Linked DNA regions of Homo sapiens. The protein of the gene in region 1 purifies or fractionates together with the protein of each later gene. This does not show direct contact. Each region holds a gene or a part of one and is shown on either strand. Other genes may lie near its edges.

Region 1 (3,188 bases):
AGTCATATATTCTAGCTAGGCATATGAGTTTCTTATGATAAAAGCTGAACTTGTTCTCTCAAGTTTAAGTGAAAAAAATTAGTTGAGAAAAAATAATTATTTAAAATATAAGCCTTCATATTATTGTACAATATTTCTCCTTTGAGAAGATAGGATATATGATTTTCCCAAAAATCACAACTTTGAAGGAAGACTTAGTTGCTGACTTCAATTATATCCTGGAACTGGCAACTTGTGCCCTTCCTTTGCTTCAAAAAAAGTGTAAGAAAGAGTGATAAGATCAACTTTAATCATTCTTGGATCTTCAGCAAATTCAGGATCAATGTAGAAAAACACTGGCATATCTACTTCCTCTTGGGGATTAAGCCTTTGTTCTTCAAAACAGAAGCACTGGAAATTATAGAAAGATTTTAATAACATTTCTATTCTCGTATTACATAACAGAAACTATACAGTTCTTTTATCTTAGCATTCCAGTACACTTCGTGATTTTAATAAGCATACTATTAAATACACAGTTCTGTGATAAATTAAGAGCATCTTTTCATCTCAATGAGTTCTGCTTTAAGGATGAAGAACAAATTCTAATCTTAAAAGCAGATATCCATTTGGTTTGGTTCTCAATCTCTGCATAGCAGGTATAGATAGTGAAGAAAAATAGCTTGATGTTTAGAAGAAATTCGTTTTCAGAAATCACAAGATCTACTAAAACACTAAGTTTCATACTAAACCGTTTCATGTATCTTTATCATATTCTGTAAAGTTTACACTTTGATGTACCTGTATTTTATTGAAATACTGTCCAGCTTCAAATGGAACAATATTGTATGTAGAAATTCCAATTACTGGTTTGTCAGTAGGATTCTTAGCTCTGTAAAACGCCAGTGCAGTCTCTCCTGGCACCACCTGTTTTAAAGAATATATATATTATCAATACTTTGAATCTCACAAAGTTCCTCTTTTCCCTGCTAAATTAGTCTCATTATTTTGCCTATTCATCAGACCATAATACCTAATCTAATGTAGGGTTCAGCAAAATAAATTGTGAATATTACCCATAAACATATCTGAGTTTAAAAACTTACTTGCATATGTCAATGAAGAACCAATGTTCTAATATCCATAATTAGTTATGAACTGTCCTCTTGTATATTTGAGGTCTTCAAGGAATAATCGGCAAATTACATTATTTAAAATGTGTCCAAGCCAATCATATCACAGCCCTAGCCCAACTTTTCTGTAACACTTATACCTGAATGTCATGATTGACTATTTTTTTTAAAAAGATACCAACATTAAACTTACCTTAAAATCAGAATAAAACTGACTGACTAGAACCTTTATTATGCCACAAAGTGTTAATACTTTGGAGAAAATAAGGGAATAGCGAGGCTTAAAAAAATTTTCCAAAGGATATTCTGTCACTTGTACCAATTCAGCCACTAATACCTTTGTATACTACCACGTAATTGGAGAAGATTCATAATCATAACCTATAAAATCTTTATTAAGAGATTCAGTCATGTTTACTAAACTGGGCAAGCACTAATATTTATAAGGCTTTTCCAATATGGGTTGAAATTAACTCACTCTGGCTAATCCTCAATTAATGAGATTTCAGTTAAAATCTTTCTTACAGTTGGTTAAAATTTTAGGAAAGCGTTTAGGTATAGTCTCAGTCTCACTGGAGTATAACATAACTATTTACTACTTATTGATTATTTCAAAGGCCCTCAATTTGTTTTCTTTTAGAAGGACAGGGATACTTTTGATATAAACCAGTAAACTACTCATTGTAACCAATGCTTTTCCACATTTTTCCCATGTCTTCTATGCCTGAGGAAAAGTCAGGAAGCTATATAGCCTGACGGTTACTGCTACTCCCAACTGTTTCACTCATCTAAACTTAATTTCAAAATACTGACGGGTTCCATTACTATAAATTTTTTTATTCCCATAGACTACTTTTTAATAGTGCTTTACACCTAATGTAACAGAATTTATACTTTAACTTTTAAGTTACATGATAGTAAAAGTCAATTTGGAACAATGGAAAATGCCATGTTTTATTAGAATCATAGTGTTAAAATTAGTCCTCTGACAGTTTAAGTGATGAAAGAAAGGAATTTACATTAATAAAGTAATCTTTTAATGACTGGTTAGTCACTTACATATATTTCTGTTTGCTGAGGTCTAAAGTTCCACTGGAGACTTGCATGCACATCTGCATTAAAGCTAATTTTAATGATTCGATCTTTAACAGGCACCATGTTTTCAATCTTGTCTGAGGCATGACCTGCAACTGCTGATCCTCCAAGTCCAGTAGTCTAGAAAAAGATACCAAATATGTTAAACAATACTTTTAGGTGTTGATGATCTATTTATTTGATAAAAGTTTAAAAACAATGTAGTATTTATAATCCATTTGGAGCCAAGTTTACATATGGTAACTGACCATTGCTGTAACTGTGTCAAGAATCTGACTACTTTTGGGATGTCATGAGCCTGTATTTGTTAAAGTCATTCCTATTTTTCAGCAATCCCTTGGTTACCTGGCATGGTCAAAAATGAGTCTGGGAAAAGCAGGTTCACTAGATAAGTCAACTATTATCACTGATAGTCGAACTCACAATTTCCAGCTTAGCCATTTATAAAAAACACATTTCCCTTTATTGCTAGTATTTCATTAATAGAAATAAAATTTACCCATGACCTTGTAATTCCACTGAAAATACTTAACTCAATTTTTCCATATTCCTGTCTGGTCCTTTTCCATATCACAGCTTTTATAATCCAAATAAGATTGTAGCTTCACTTTTATTAACATTCTGCTTTTCTAAGGTATCACAGGTATTTTCCCACGTTGGTTAATGGTTTTGAATCTTTTCTGTACTTCTCTGTATAGTAGAGCTTTTATATAAATCACTAATCAGAGCACCTAATCCCTATGGCCACAGAAATAATCATAGGGCATCAAGAGTATTTATGTCTGACATTTCTTTTATTCATGACAGTTATTTCCTTGACATCACTTTTAAAAAAAGCCCTTACCCAGCACTTTGGGAAGCCACGGGGGGCGGATCATGAGGTCAGGAGATGGAGACCATCCTGGCTAACACAGTGAACCCCCGTCTCTATTAAAAATAGAAAAAAATTAGCCGGGTGTGGTGACACGCGCCTGTAGTCCC
Region 2 (3,922 bases), on another chromosome or scaffold:
CAGTGTTCGACTTCCTCATGGCCAGGGCATGTGGGTACAGGTTCAGGGCTGGGAGAGACTCCGCGGGTGGACGCTGGGGTCTTCACTGAGCCCTTTCCCACGACTGCTGTTGCCATGACAACATCGACACGCAAAGGCCGGGCCTTACCGCTTACAGTACACTTTCATTCTGCCCTAGGTTGAGCTGTAACTACCCTCCACCCCCATTCGTATGGTGAAGCCACTAGGACCTTAGGATGTGACCTTTGCTTTGGAAATAGGTGCCAGGTGCGGCGGCTCACGCCTGTCATCCCAGCCCTTTGGGAGGCTGAAGTGGGCGGATCACTTAAGGTCAGGAGTTCGAGACCAGCCTGGGCAACATGGTGAAACCCCGTCTCTACGAAAAGTACAAAAAATTAGCCGGGTGTGGTGGCGCATGCCTGTAATCCCAGCTACTCTGGAGGCTGAGGCAGGAGAATCTCTTGAACTCGGGAAGTGGAGGTTGCGGTGAGCCGAGATCGTACCACTGCACGCCCGTCTAGGTTACAAAGTGAGACTCTGTGTTGAAAAAAAATATATTAGCTTAGCTGGGTGTGTTGGTGGCGCCTGTAATCCCAGCTACTCGGGAGGCTGAGGCAGGAGAATTGCTTTAACCTGGGAGGTGGAGGTTGCAATGAGCCAGGATCGAGCCACTGTACTCCAGCCTGGGCAACAAGAGAGAGACTCCGTTTTAAAAAACAAAACAAAGAAATAGGGTTGCTGCTGATATAATTAGTTAAGATGAAGTTATTGGGACGGCCCCTAACCCAACATGACTGCTATCCTTATAAAAAGAGGAAATTTAGGTTGGGCATGGTGGCTCATGCCTATAATCCCGGCATTTAGGGAGGCTGAGGCAGGAGGATTGCCTGAGCCCAGGAGTTAAGGACCAGCCTGGGCAACATAGGGAGACTCCATCTCTACGAAAAATAGAAAAATTAGCCTGGTGTGGTGGTGTGTGCCTGTGGTCGCAGCTACTCAGGAGGCTGGGGTGAGAGGATCGCTGAGCCCAGGAGGTCGAGGCTGCAGTGAGTCGTGATCATGCCACTGCACTCTAGTCTGGGCAACAGAGCAATACCCTGTCTCAAATAAATAAATAAAAATAGTAAATTTGGACATGCGCAGGACACCATGGGAACGTAGGGGCCGAGACCAGGTGGTGCTTCTGCAAGCCAAGGAACCTCACAGGCTGGCGGCCCCCAGAAGCTGGGAGGCTGGGACTGTCCCCAGGGCCCCCACTCTGCCCACTGCTTGGACTCCAGACCCCAGGACTGAGAGCACATTCCTGTTGTTGAAGCTGCTCGGTGGTGTCACCTGGCTCCAGCAGCCGCAGGCAGCGAGTCCACAGGCTCTCCTGTCCCTCCTGTGCCGCCTTCCTCCCCGGATGGGCCCCGTGATGAGGTCTCTGTGCGATGGGGAAACCGAGGCCCCAGCAGACACCTGGGATGCAGAGACGCCGGCACCGCTATGTGTCCTCGGGCAATTCGCTGAACCTTTCTGGGCCTCGGTTTCTCACCAATTCCAAAAGCTGATTCTGCTACCGACTGCTGTGAGGGTCCCAGGGGACGGGAAAGCCCGGGCAGCGCCCACCGGGGCTCAGGAGCTTGCTGACTCCGAGGGGGTGGGGCCGGGCCTGGGCAAGGGGTGGGGCCGGGCCTGGGCAAGGGGCGGGGACGGGGCCTGCTCGACGTGCTCGGCGCTCCCGGGGTGCCTGCTCGGCGCTCCGCCGGCCGCCCTGCGTACGCTCGCAAGGCGCTCGCAGACTCCGGAGTCGCCAACATGTCGACCGCCATGAATTTCGGGACCAAGAGCTTCCAGCCGCGGCCCCCGGACAAGGGCAGCTTCCCGCTGGATCACTTAGGTGAGCGGCGGAAGGTCGGCGGGCAGGGGTCTGCGATGGGGGGTCTGGGTCGCGGCCCAGCGCGGAGCCCTATGGGGTGCCGGCATCTAGCGCGGTGCAGGCGGGGAAACTGAGGCACGGCGGCCCGCCCCTCCGCCCCACCCAGCCCTGGGTCACTGCTGCGGCATGGACCCTGCAGGTGGGAGCTGGCAGGACCGTGGCCCCCGTGACGAGGGCAGCGACACCGACTCCTTGCGTCAGGCTTCCGGGTCTCCGGCTCCGCCCTGACTCACCCGGCGGGCTGTCTGTGCCCCGGGTTTGCAGAGCGGGGCATTCGGCGGCCACGAAGCCCGCAGCTGCAGCCGAGGCTTAGACGGTGCCTAGCGATGTCTGCTGCAAAGCTCAAAAGTGCTGCTGATCTCCCAGTGCTTCTGGCCGTATTCCGGTGGGGTTGCCTCCGTGGACATGAAGGCTTCGAAAAAGGATCTGTGGGCCGGGCGCGGTGGCTCATGCCTGTGATCCCAGCCCTTTGGGAGGCCGAGGTGGGCGGATCATTTAAGATCAGGAGTTCGAGACCAGCCTGCCCAACATGGGGAAACCCCGTCTCTACTAAAAATACAAAAATTAGTTGGGTGTGATGTGGCTCGCCTGTAGTCCCAGCTACTCGGGAGGCTGAGGCAGGAGAATCGCTTGAACCGGGAGACGGAGGTTGCAGTGAGCCGAGATCGGGCCACTGCACTGCAGCTTGGGCGACAGAGTGAGACAACGTCTCAAAAAAAAAAAGAAAGAAAAGAAAAGAAAAACGATCTGTGAATTACTGTTTCTTTCCCAACATTTTATTGTGACATTTTCAAATAGCAAAAATGAAAGAATTTTTACCCTGAACTCTCCTGTGACCATCACCTACATTGCACCTTAACCTCGTACTGGGCTGACTTTACCTCGTTGTGGGTTTTTTCCATTGTTGTTTTCAGCATGTTTATGAAGGAAACAAGTTTGGGTTTGATTGTTTTTGTTTTGAGACACGGTCTCACTCTGTTGCTTAGGCTGGAGTGCAGTGGTGCAATCATAGCTCACTGAAGCCTCGGCCTCCTTCCTTTCTGGACTCAGGGGAGTCTCCCGTCTCATCCTCTAGAGTAGCTGGGACTATAGGTGTGCAGCGCCACACCCAGCTAATTTTTTTTTTTTTTTTTTTTTTAGAGATGGGGTTTCCCCATGTTGCCCAGGCTGGATTATTTATTTATTTATTTTTGAAATGGACTCTCACTGTGTCGCCCAGGCTGGAGTGCAGTGGTGTGATCTCGACTCACTGCAACCTCCTCCTCCCGGGTTCAAGCGATTCTCCTGTCTCAGCCTCTAGAGTAGCTGGGACTATAGGTGTGCAACACCACACCCAGCTAATTATTATTGTTTTTTTATTTTTTATTTTAAAGATGGAGTTTCCCCATGTTGACCAGGCTGGATCATTTATTTATTTATTTTTGAAATGGAGTCTCACTCTGTCACCCAGGCTGGAGTGCAGTGGTGTGATCTCGACTCGCTGCAACCTCCGCTTCCTGGGTTCAAGCAATTCTCCTGCCTCAGCCTCCCGAGTAGCTGGGACTACAGACACCCGCCACCATGCCCGGCTAATTTTTGTATTTTTAATAGAGATGGGGTTTCACCAAGTTGGCCGAGCTGGTCTTGAACTCCTGACCTCAGGTGATCCGCCCACCTCTGCCTCCCAAAGTGCTAGGATTACAGGCGTGAGCCACCGTGCCCAGCCTGGATTATTTTTAGGAGACAAGGTCTTGATCTGTTGCCCAGGCTGGAGTGCAGTGGTGTGATCAAGCTCACTGCAGCCTCGAAATCCTTTGCTCAAGCGATCTTCCTGCCTCAGCCTCCTGAGTAGCTGGAACCACAGACGTGCGCCACACCTAGCTAACTTTTAAGGTTTTTTTTGGTAGAGATGGGGGTCTCACTGTGTTGCCCAGGCTGGTCTCAAACTCCTGGGGTCAGGTGATCCTCTCAGAGTGCTGGGATTACAGGTGTGAACCACTGCGCCCGGCCTGAGGAAACAAGTTT

Evidence for each region.
Region 2: the proteins of COX11 (region 1) and COX19 purify together in Homo sapiens (affinity purification with mass spectrometry; one large-scale study listed by BioGRID and IntAct). This does not show direct contact.

What each region holds. Positions count from the first base shown.
Region 1 is NC_000017.11:54,962,526-54,965,713, forward strand, and holds part of COX11 (cytochrome c oxidase assembly protein COX11, mitochondrial), read right to left. Parts: intron 2,328-3,188; coding exon 2,172-2,327; intron 907-2,171; coding exon 781-906; coding exon of another isoform or gene 736-780; exon of another isoform or gene 396-735; intron 391-395; coding exon 208-390; 3' UTR 1-207. UniProt on the Homo sapiens protein: Exerts its effect at some terminal stage of cytochrome c oxidase synthesis, probably by being involved in the insertion of the copper B into subunit I.
Region 2 is NC_000007.14:973,385-977,306, reverse strand, and holds the start of COX19 (cytochrome c oxidase assembly protein COX19), read left to right. Parts: upstream 1-1,757; 5' UTR 1,758-1,797; coding exon 1,798-1,879; intron 1,880-3,922. UniProt on the Homo sapiens protein: Required for the transduction of an SCO1-dependent redox signal from the mitochondrion to ATP7A to regulate cellular copper homeostasis. May be required for the assembly of mitochondrial cytochrome c oxidase.